Homo sapiens: one gene and its partner. The protein of the gene in region 1 purifies or fractionates together with the protein of each later gene. This does not show direct contact. Each region holds a gene or a part of one and is shown on either strand. Other genes may lie near its edges. The genes, in order: CYSTM1 and ARVCF.

Region 1 (3,815 bases):
AATTTTTGGTGGCCTTTAATGTCTGGTGGTGGCTGTGTGAGAAACTAATGAGGGATAATTGTATTTACTTACTGATTATTATTTTGCTTTAGGGACAATCTGCCAGACTGGAGTGCATGGCATGATCATAGCTCAGTGCAGGCTCAAACTCCTGGGCTCAAAAGATCTTCCCACCTCAGTCTCCTGAGTAGCTAGGACTACAGGCACATATCACTGTGCCTGGTTAATTTTTTATTTATATTTCATAGAGATGGGGGTCTCACTATGTTGCCCAGGCTGGTCTCAAACTCCTGAGCTCAGGCAATCCTGCTGCATGAGCCACTGCACCTGCAAGAGCCACGGGGGCCACTGCCACTGCAAGATAGCAGGACCCCCGTCTGTATTTTTTGCTATGTTGACTAGGTCTTGCTATGTTGACTAGGCCATTCTTAAAGTCCTAGCCTCAAGGGATCCTCCTGCCTCAGCTTCCCAAAGTGCTGGGATCACAGGCGTGTGACACCACCTTCGGCCGGGTAGTTGTATTTAAAGGGAGGGTCTTGAAAGTAAACCCTAGTGTTTTTCACACTTCATTTGTGTTCCCCTGCATGATTTTTGTCTTATCTTTATGTCATCTGTACTGTTGTTTAACATTCTTCTTAAAGTTGACCCATTTTTTAAAACCCTAAAATTTGTTTAAAAGGGAAACGATATCATTGCCTTAAACTGATAACTACTACATCACCTGTCACAAATAGAAGGTATAAATTATTGAAGTTGTTTGTCCATGTTCCCCAAGTTCCACATATCCCACCTGGGGCAATACAGCCTTTACCCAAAGATATGACTCACTAATAGTGAGTTTTTCAGGCAGCAGTAGATGGGTGGTAGGATGGTTTGGAGTAGGCAGGCCTTCAGAGAGGGCCCCTTCAATCCTATCTTTTCCTAAAACTTGTGTGGTTCTATGATACTAGGAAGGCCACAGAATGAAGAATCTAGGAGGTAACAAGAGGTAAATGCAATGTGAAACCACTTCTGTTTTGATCTGAAGTTTGCCAAAAAGAGGCCTGAGTGGTGGTGAGGCTGTATACTATATTAAATTCTAGGCCCTCTGCCAGGGGTGTGGCTTCATTGATGCTGTGTTACATTGTTCTTTCTGTGCCAGCGTGCTCTTAGAAAACTCAGATTCTCCTGGGAAACTCAGATCTTTCTTGGGGGGCAGGAGGGATGCTTTTTTTTTTTTTAACTCATCAATAACCCAAACTACTTTGAGTTCCTTTCACATATAGAGAACTGTTTGTGGATGTTGCTAATGATAGAAACTGAAGTTATCATCTAGAATTTTTTTCCCCCAATCTTCATTGTCCGTAAAGCCTATTCCTTTAAGAATCCTATGAAAACAGAAGAAAGGGGGAGGGTGAGCTGCCCTGGGTTGTATGGTCTCTTAGGGTGCAGCACATGATAGGCATGAGTGGTACTTCCTGGTTTGATGTGAAATTCACTGTTGTCCATTAAGAGCCACCCCGCAGTGCTGACTGAGCTGCTGCTCCCTCAGAGGGTCAGGAGAGCGTGCTTTCATGATGGAGCAAAGCCAGGCTGGCTTGGTATTCATCAGGAACCAGGAGCGCTTAGTTAAATTGCCAGCACGTTAAGCTGTAGGGGCCTCTTTCTAAATCATCAAGATTTCAACTTTCCCACAAAGCCTAATCTAATGCTCTGGGAGGAGGCAGGCAGAGCCTGTCTTTCAGGGGCTGGGCTGGCAGGGGACCTGGCCTGGGAAGTGGCCTTATCAGGCTTGTTGGGAGGGATGGACCTGTCCCTTTCTAGTGTGTCCTCTCAACTTGGCAGGGGGCAGAGTTCTTCCCTTTTCTCTCTCTCCATGCCCTAACCGCTCCTTTCAATTCCCCAACTCACTTTCTGTGTTCACAGCTTTCTTCCCTTTTCCTTTCCCTTCTGTTCAATACTGCCCTCTCTTTTGAGCCTCTCTCTTGCTGGGCCCCATTTTCTCTCCATTCTCACTTTGAGGGTTGACTATTTGAAGTTCCAATTATAATGCTGTCCTATATGTCCCAGTGACTAGATGTAATTCAGAGATCCCTACCCTATTTTTCTGAGGAGAAGCCAACCTTCATTTCTCTACTGGCTTTCAGATAGCAGTGTTGGTGGGGTACTGACCAGAGTCCCTGAACTGAGTGGTTGGGTGAGGCTGGATGTGCTCCTCCCCGATATGGGGGTCCCAGCAGTATGGGGAAGGTATTATAATCAGGGTTTGCTGACAATGCCAGGATCCATTAGACAAGGGGCTGAGGCTTACCTGTGGGGACCCTTCCATAAGCTGAATGCAGAGGGGAATACTGCATCCAGGCAGTCCTCTAGCTTTTGCAGAGGACCATACATGATGAATGAAGGCTGGAGAAGGAGCCCTTGGGTGAGGTTAGCCTGGAACCCACAGGACTATTTGCAGCTGTGGATCCTGCCCTGAAGCTAGGTTTTCCCAGGTAGCAACTGGACCAAATTGTCTTCCCATGTGGTTAGATGGATTGTTGGAAGCATCTAGGAGCATGGCTTTCCTGCTTAATGAGTTAAAAAATTGATTATTTTCTTGTAAAAGCCATGTGGCTACTTTACCTAAAGATGATTAGCAAGGGTTTTAACTTTCATTGTTAAATATAACATATGTATAAAAAAGTATGTATAATGTACAGTTTAATCAATAATTGTATTCATTAGTGTAACTGTGTGATCTATTCAGGTTTAGAAATAGAAGTTTATTTTTAAACCCAAATGGGGTAATAGAATGCACTGTGTTGCAATTTGTTTTTTTCCCACCATGTTGGTGCTTTTTCATATCAGCACAGGTAGTTCTAACTTATTCTTCTGAAGCGTCATATAGCAGCAGTTCCATGGATTGGAAATACCATGGTTTATTTAACCATTCTCATATTGATGAACATTATATTTAATATATATGCATGTGTATAAAGTTGGGTTTTTTTTTTTTGGCATACCGGCTGGCACTAGTATATATCTGTAAGATAAATTCCTAAAGGTAGAATTGCTCGTTCAAAGGATAGGGTGTTTTTATGTATTTATTTGGGGTTTTACTTAAAAATATGTCTTTATTGAAGAGTTTATAAGAAAAAAGGATAGACCCGCTATAAAAAGAAAGGCTGTCTGCTCTAAACATTAGGGAGGAATGGGACACCAATACCTGGTGGCTAAGGATAGGTCATTTTAGTTGTTGATATTTTCAGGTAGTAATGTCTTTTTTCCCAGGAATGTTTATAAATGTTATATCTTACAGAGCACCAAGCCCTGGATCCAACTAGAGGTTCTTTACAGAAAGCTTTATGGAGAAAGGTTTTAGCAGATGATATGTTATCCTCTGTTGAAGGGAACTTCTCTGAATTCCCTCAGAAAGTCTCTAAGTCTGGAAGAATGCTAAAATGTACCTACCAAGTTTAGTATTGGAGGGAGACAAGATTGACTGTAGTCACATTTTCAAATAATTCTGAACTATGGATAATTAATGTAGGTATGGTATGACTTTTCAGAATTTGCTGTTCCTAATCTATCAGGACAAGTTGAGAATACTTACATCTTTGTGTTATCTTAATGTTGGGGATAGCGGCTTAAAGCAATTATCTGAATGGCATTAGCAAACTATGTTACTAAATAGTTTGTAGATTTTTAGCTTCATATGAACTCAGTTATAAAAGCAGTGTGTGGTTTTTGTATCAGATATTTTTTGTGAGAAAGGAAAATAAGACAGTCTCTGAACCTCTTCATCACTCTGGGCCAGGGCCTTCAGAGGTAGATGATCCATTGTTAGTTTTTGC
Region 2 (3,815 bases), on another chromosome or scaffold:
GAGGCTCCCTCACATAATAAGTAAGAAATTGCATAATACCCTTTTATTTATTTATTTTTTGAGACGGAGTCTTGCCCTGTCGCCAGGCTAGAGTGCAGTGGCGCGATCTCGGCTCACTGCAACTTCCGCCTCCTGGGTTCAAGTGATTCTCCTGCCTCAGCCTCCCGAGTAGCTGGGACTACAGGCGCGTGCCACCATGCCTAGCTAATTTTTGTATTTTTAGTAGAGACGGGGTTTCACCATGTTGACCAGGATGGTCTTGATCTCTTGACCTCGTGATCTGCCTGCCTCAGCCTCCCAAAGTGCTGGGATTACAAGCATGAGCCACCGCGCCTGGCCTACCCTTTTGAAATAAATAGTATATCAAAGGTAAAAATTTAAGGCTGGGTGCAGTGGCTCACACCTGTAATCCCAGCACTTTGGGAGGCCAAGGCAAGTGGATTGCTGGGGCCCAGAAGTTCGAGACCAACCTGGGCAACATGGCACAACCCTGTCTGTACAAAAAATACAAAAATTAGCCAGGCATGGCCGGGAGCGGTGGCTCACACCTGTAATCCCAGCACTTTGGGAGGCCGAGGCGGGAGGATCACCTGAGGTCAGGAGTTCGACACCAGCCTGGACATGGTGAAATCCCATCTCTATTAAAAAAAAAAATTTAAAAATTAGCTGGTGATGGTGGCAGGCACCTGTAATCCCAGCTACTCGGGAGGTTGAGGCAGGAGAATTGCTTGAACGTGGGAGGTGAAGGTTGCAGTGAGCCAAGAATGCGCCACTGCACCCCAGTCTGGGTGACAGAGCGAGACTCCGTCTCAAAACAAACAAACAAAAAGGAAACAGTTCAGATGCAGCTGTAAAAACAAAGTTAAATCCTTGCCGTCCATTTACATCAGAATAAATACTAGTTTGTGCTATGGGCTGAACGTGTCCCCCAAAGTTCACGTGTTGGAAACTTAATTCCCAACGCAACAGTGTTGAAGGTAGGACCTCTAAGAGGTGTTTAGGTCACAAGGGCTCTGCTACATGAATGGATTAATTCCGTTACAGTGGGAGTGGATTTGTTATCTCGGGAGCAGGTTACTGATAAAAGGATGGGTTCCGCCTCCTTCAGCGCTCTCTCACGTGTGCTCCTGCCCTTCTGCCACCTCCTGGGGGATGTAGCGACAAAGAAGGCCCTCGCCAGATGTGGCCCCTCAATCCTGGACTTCCCCATCTCCAAAATTGTTAGAAATAAGTCTTTGTTTTTCAGGAATTAGCCAGTCTCAGGTATTCTGATACAGCAGCCCAAAATGGACTAAGACAGACAGATTAAATGCTGTGTACAAAACTAAAGTAAAAATACCTTCTAGAAGAAAAGACAGGTGCATCTTTATCTGGCTGCATGCTAGGGAGAGTTGACTACACAGAGAGACGGAATATCTAAAAATGGGGAAAAATCCAACACACTTCACCACAAAATATGAAACATTTTTGACATCAAAATGATCATAAACAAAAACTAAAAGGGTGAGAAAAATGTGCAGTAGGCAGAAAGAGGAGTGAAGAATTAATATCTTTAATATACAAAGACTCATACAATGGCTGAGAAACACATCAAAACCCAAGAGAAGGCCTGTCATAGGGGCCAGGCGGCCGCAGGAGACGAAGCCGCAACCCCCTGCAGGCACACGGCGGCTGATGGAGGAGGCCAGGCTGGTGCTGGTCTCTGAGAGGACACCACTGCTGGCCAGCTATGGGAAACGGCAGGGCATCTGTGTCCCCGCCAGCCCTTCTCACTCAGGCCTGGTCTCAGCACGCACCACCCCATCACACCCTCCCAGCTCCCCCTCCTAAGGGAGCCATGCTACTCATCACCATCTTGTAACCCCACAGTTGGCCACTGGTTCCTCTGTGTGTTGTGGATCTCCTCAACCAGGCTGGGAGCTCCTCAGGGGCAGGGCTGGGCCTGATGTGCCTGTGATGCCCAGGACCCAGCATGAGGCTGGGTGAGTGGGTGCTGAGTGTGGTGACACATGGGTGTTTACATCAGCCCCTGTCCCAGCTGAGCCCTGAGGCTCCCTCCCCAGCTGCCTCCCGCTGTGGACAGGACCACACCCCAGGGCCCAGCAGAGCAGGCAGCCGCAAGCCAGAGCCCAGGTTGCCCAAGCCAGAGCAGAGATGGCACAAATGCCATCACCCATCGCACCAGTGCCCAGGGCAGACATGAAAAACCAATCACCACAGCAGACAGGAATAAGCAATCACCACATTCCAGATGGGCAGGATAGGAGATGGGGAAAGGCAGAGAAAGAGGCACAGAGAGGGCCACAGAGAAACATAGAGAAGACCAAGAACTGGAGGGGGGAGGGAAAAGAAGGGACAAGAAAGGAGCAAGCAACAGGAGGGAGAGTGAGCAAGTGTGCCTGGGCAGCCTCGGACCTGCCCAGCCAACCACCCTCCTGCGGACCCTGTTACCAGGGCTGTCGTTTGGTGTCTGGCTGACCTGGCCTCCCTGAAGTGTGGTGACCTACGAGGAGTTAAGGGCAGTGGGACAGCCCCTCCTGCCACCCTGAGATGCCCTGTCACCTGTGCCACAAGCAAGCCAAGTACCCTGCCTGAGCTTCTTTGTCCCAACCCAGAAGACCCTGCATGGCCAAATGGCCTGAGCAGTGACATTCTCGGCCAGACGCTGGTCCTCCCACACAGCCAGGCGGCAGCAGACCCAGCTCCCACTAGGCTGGCCCGGCCGGCAGCTTTCCATGCCCAAGGACTTGGGAACAGGCAAGGAGTCAGTCATCCTGTCCCTCCCATCTGCCCTAGATCCCTCAGCCTAGGTCACTCAGGCATCCGGAGGCCATGGCCTTCTCCCTACCACTTAGGCACAGCACTGGCTGGGCCATGCCTCCACAATGGGCACTAATTGTCACTGAGAAACCACAGGGCTGTCAGCCATGCCTCCCACAGAGACTGCTTTTTGGGGGGACAGGCAGATGGCCAGGGTGGGGACTGGAGGAACAAGAATGGCCAGGAGCCATTCTCTTAAGCCATCACCCACTCTGCTGAACAGCACCCATCGTGGCAAAACTCTGGCAGCGTGGATGTGAGCAGGGTATGCCTTACCATCCTTCAGAGGGTCCTGGGGGACATGGACCACTCAGCCTCCAACCCTGCCATGCTTCCCAGGCGCTATGCCTCAGTCCCACTGGAGCTAGCAGCCATGATAAGCAGAGGAACCCCAAACACAGATAACACCTGAGGCCACGGGCCAGTACACATGGCCTACGGCTGTGATCAGAGTACATTCAGACTATTCAGTTATGGGCTGTCTGCAGCCATTTTCATCCTACAATGGCAGAGAACTGCAGCTGTGACAGAGACCATAAGGCCTGCAAAATTGAATTACTTACTATCAGACCTTTTCAAACAAAGTTTTGTGTGCCTGGCCTCCAGGACTATCCTCTGTCCCTGTGGCTCCAGTCTCTGGGGGGCAAGCGAATGGCCTGGCCCAGCAGGCTGTGCCAATACTGGATGCCACTGCGGCTGGCATCCTAGCTCAGGCAGGTGAAGAGCAGACCCAGTGAATGTCCAAACCAACACTGACCAGCAACCTCGTCAGCCAGCCCCAAACAGGCTTGTCCCTAAAGCCAGACATCAAACCAGTGGCTGCTGCCCATATTCAGGCCAGTAACAAACCCAAGCTGGTGGCAGGAGGCCCTCACATCCACCCTGTCCAGCCCAGGGGCTGTGCCTACCCAGGGTGAGAAGGACCAGGAGCACACAGTGTCCAGGGCCAGTCCATCCCTGTCACCCCCACCCGCCAGGCCCACCAGAACACTCTG

The links.
Region 2: the proteins of CYSTM1 (region 1) and ARVCF purify together in Homo sapiens (affinity purification with mass spectrometry; one large-scale study listed by BioGRID and IntAct). This does not show direct contact.

What each region holds. Positions count from the first base shown.
Region 1 is NC_000005.10:140,181,423-140,185,237, forward strand, and holds part of CYSTM1 (cysteine-rich and transmembrane domain-containing protein 1), read left to right. Parts: intron 1-3,815.
Region 2 is NC_000022.11:20,006,591-20,010,405, forward strand, and holds part of ARVCF (splicing regulator ARVCF), read right to left. Parts: intron 1-3,815. UniProt on the Homo sapiens protein: Contributes to the regulation of alternative splicing of pre-mRNAs.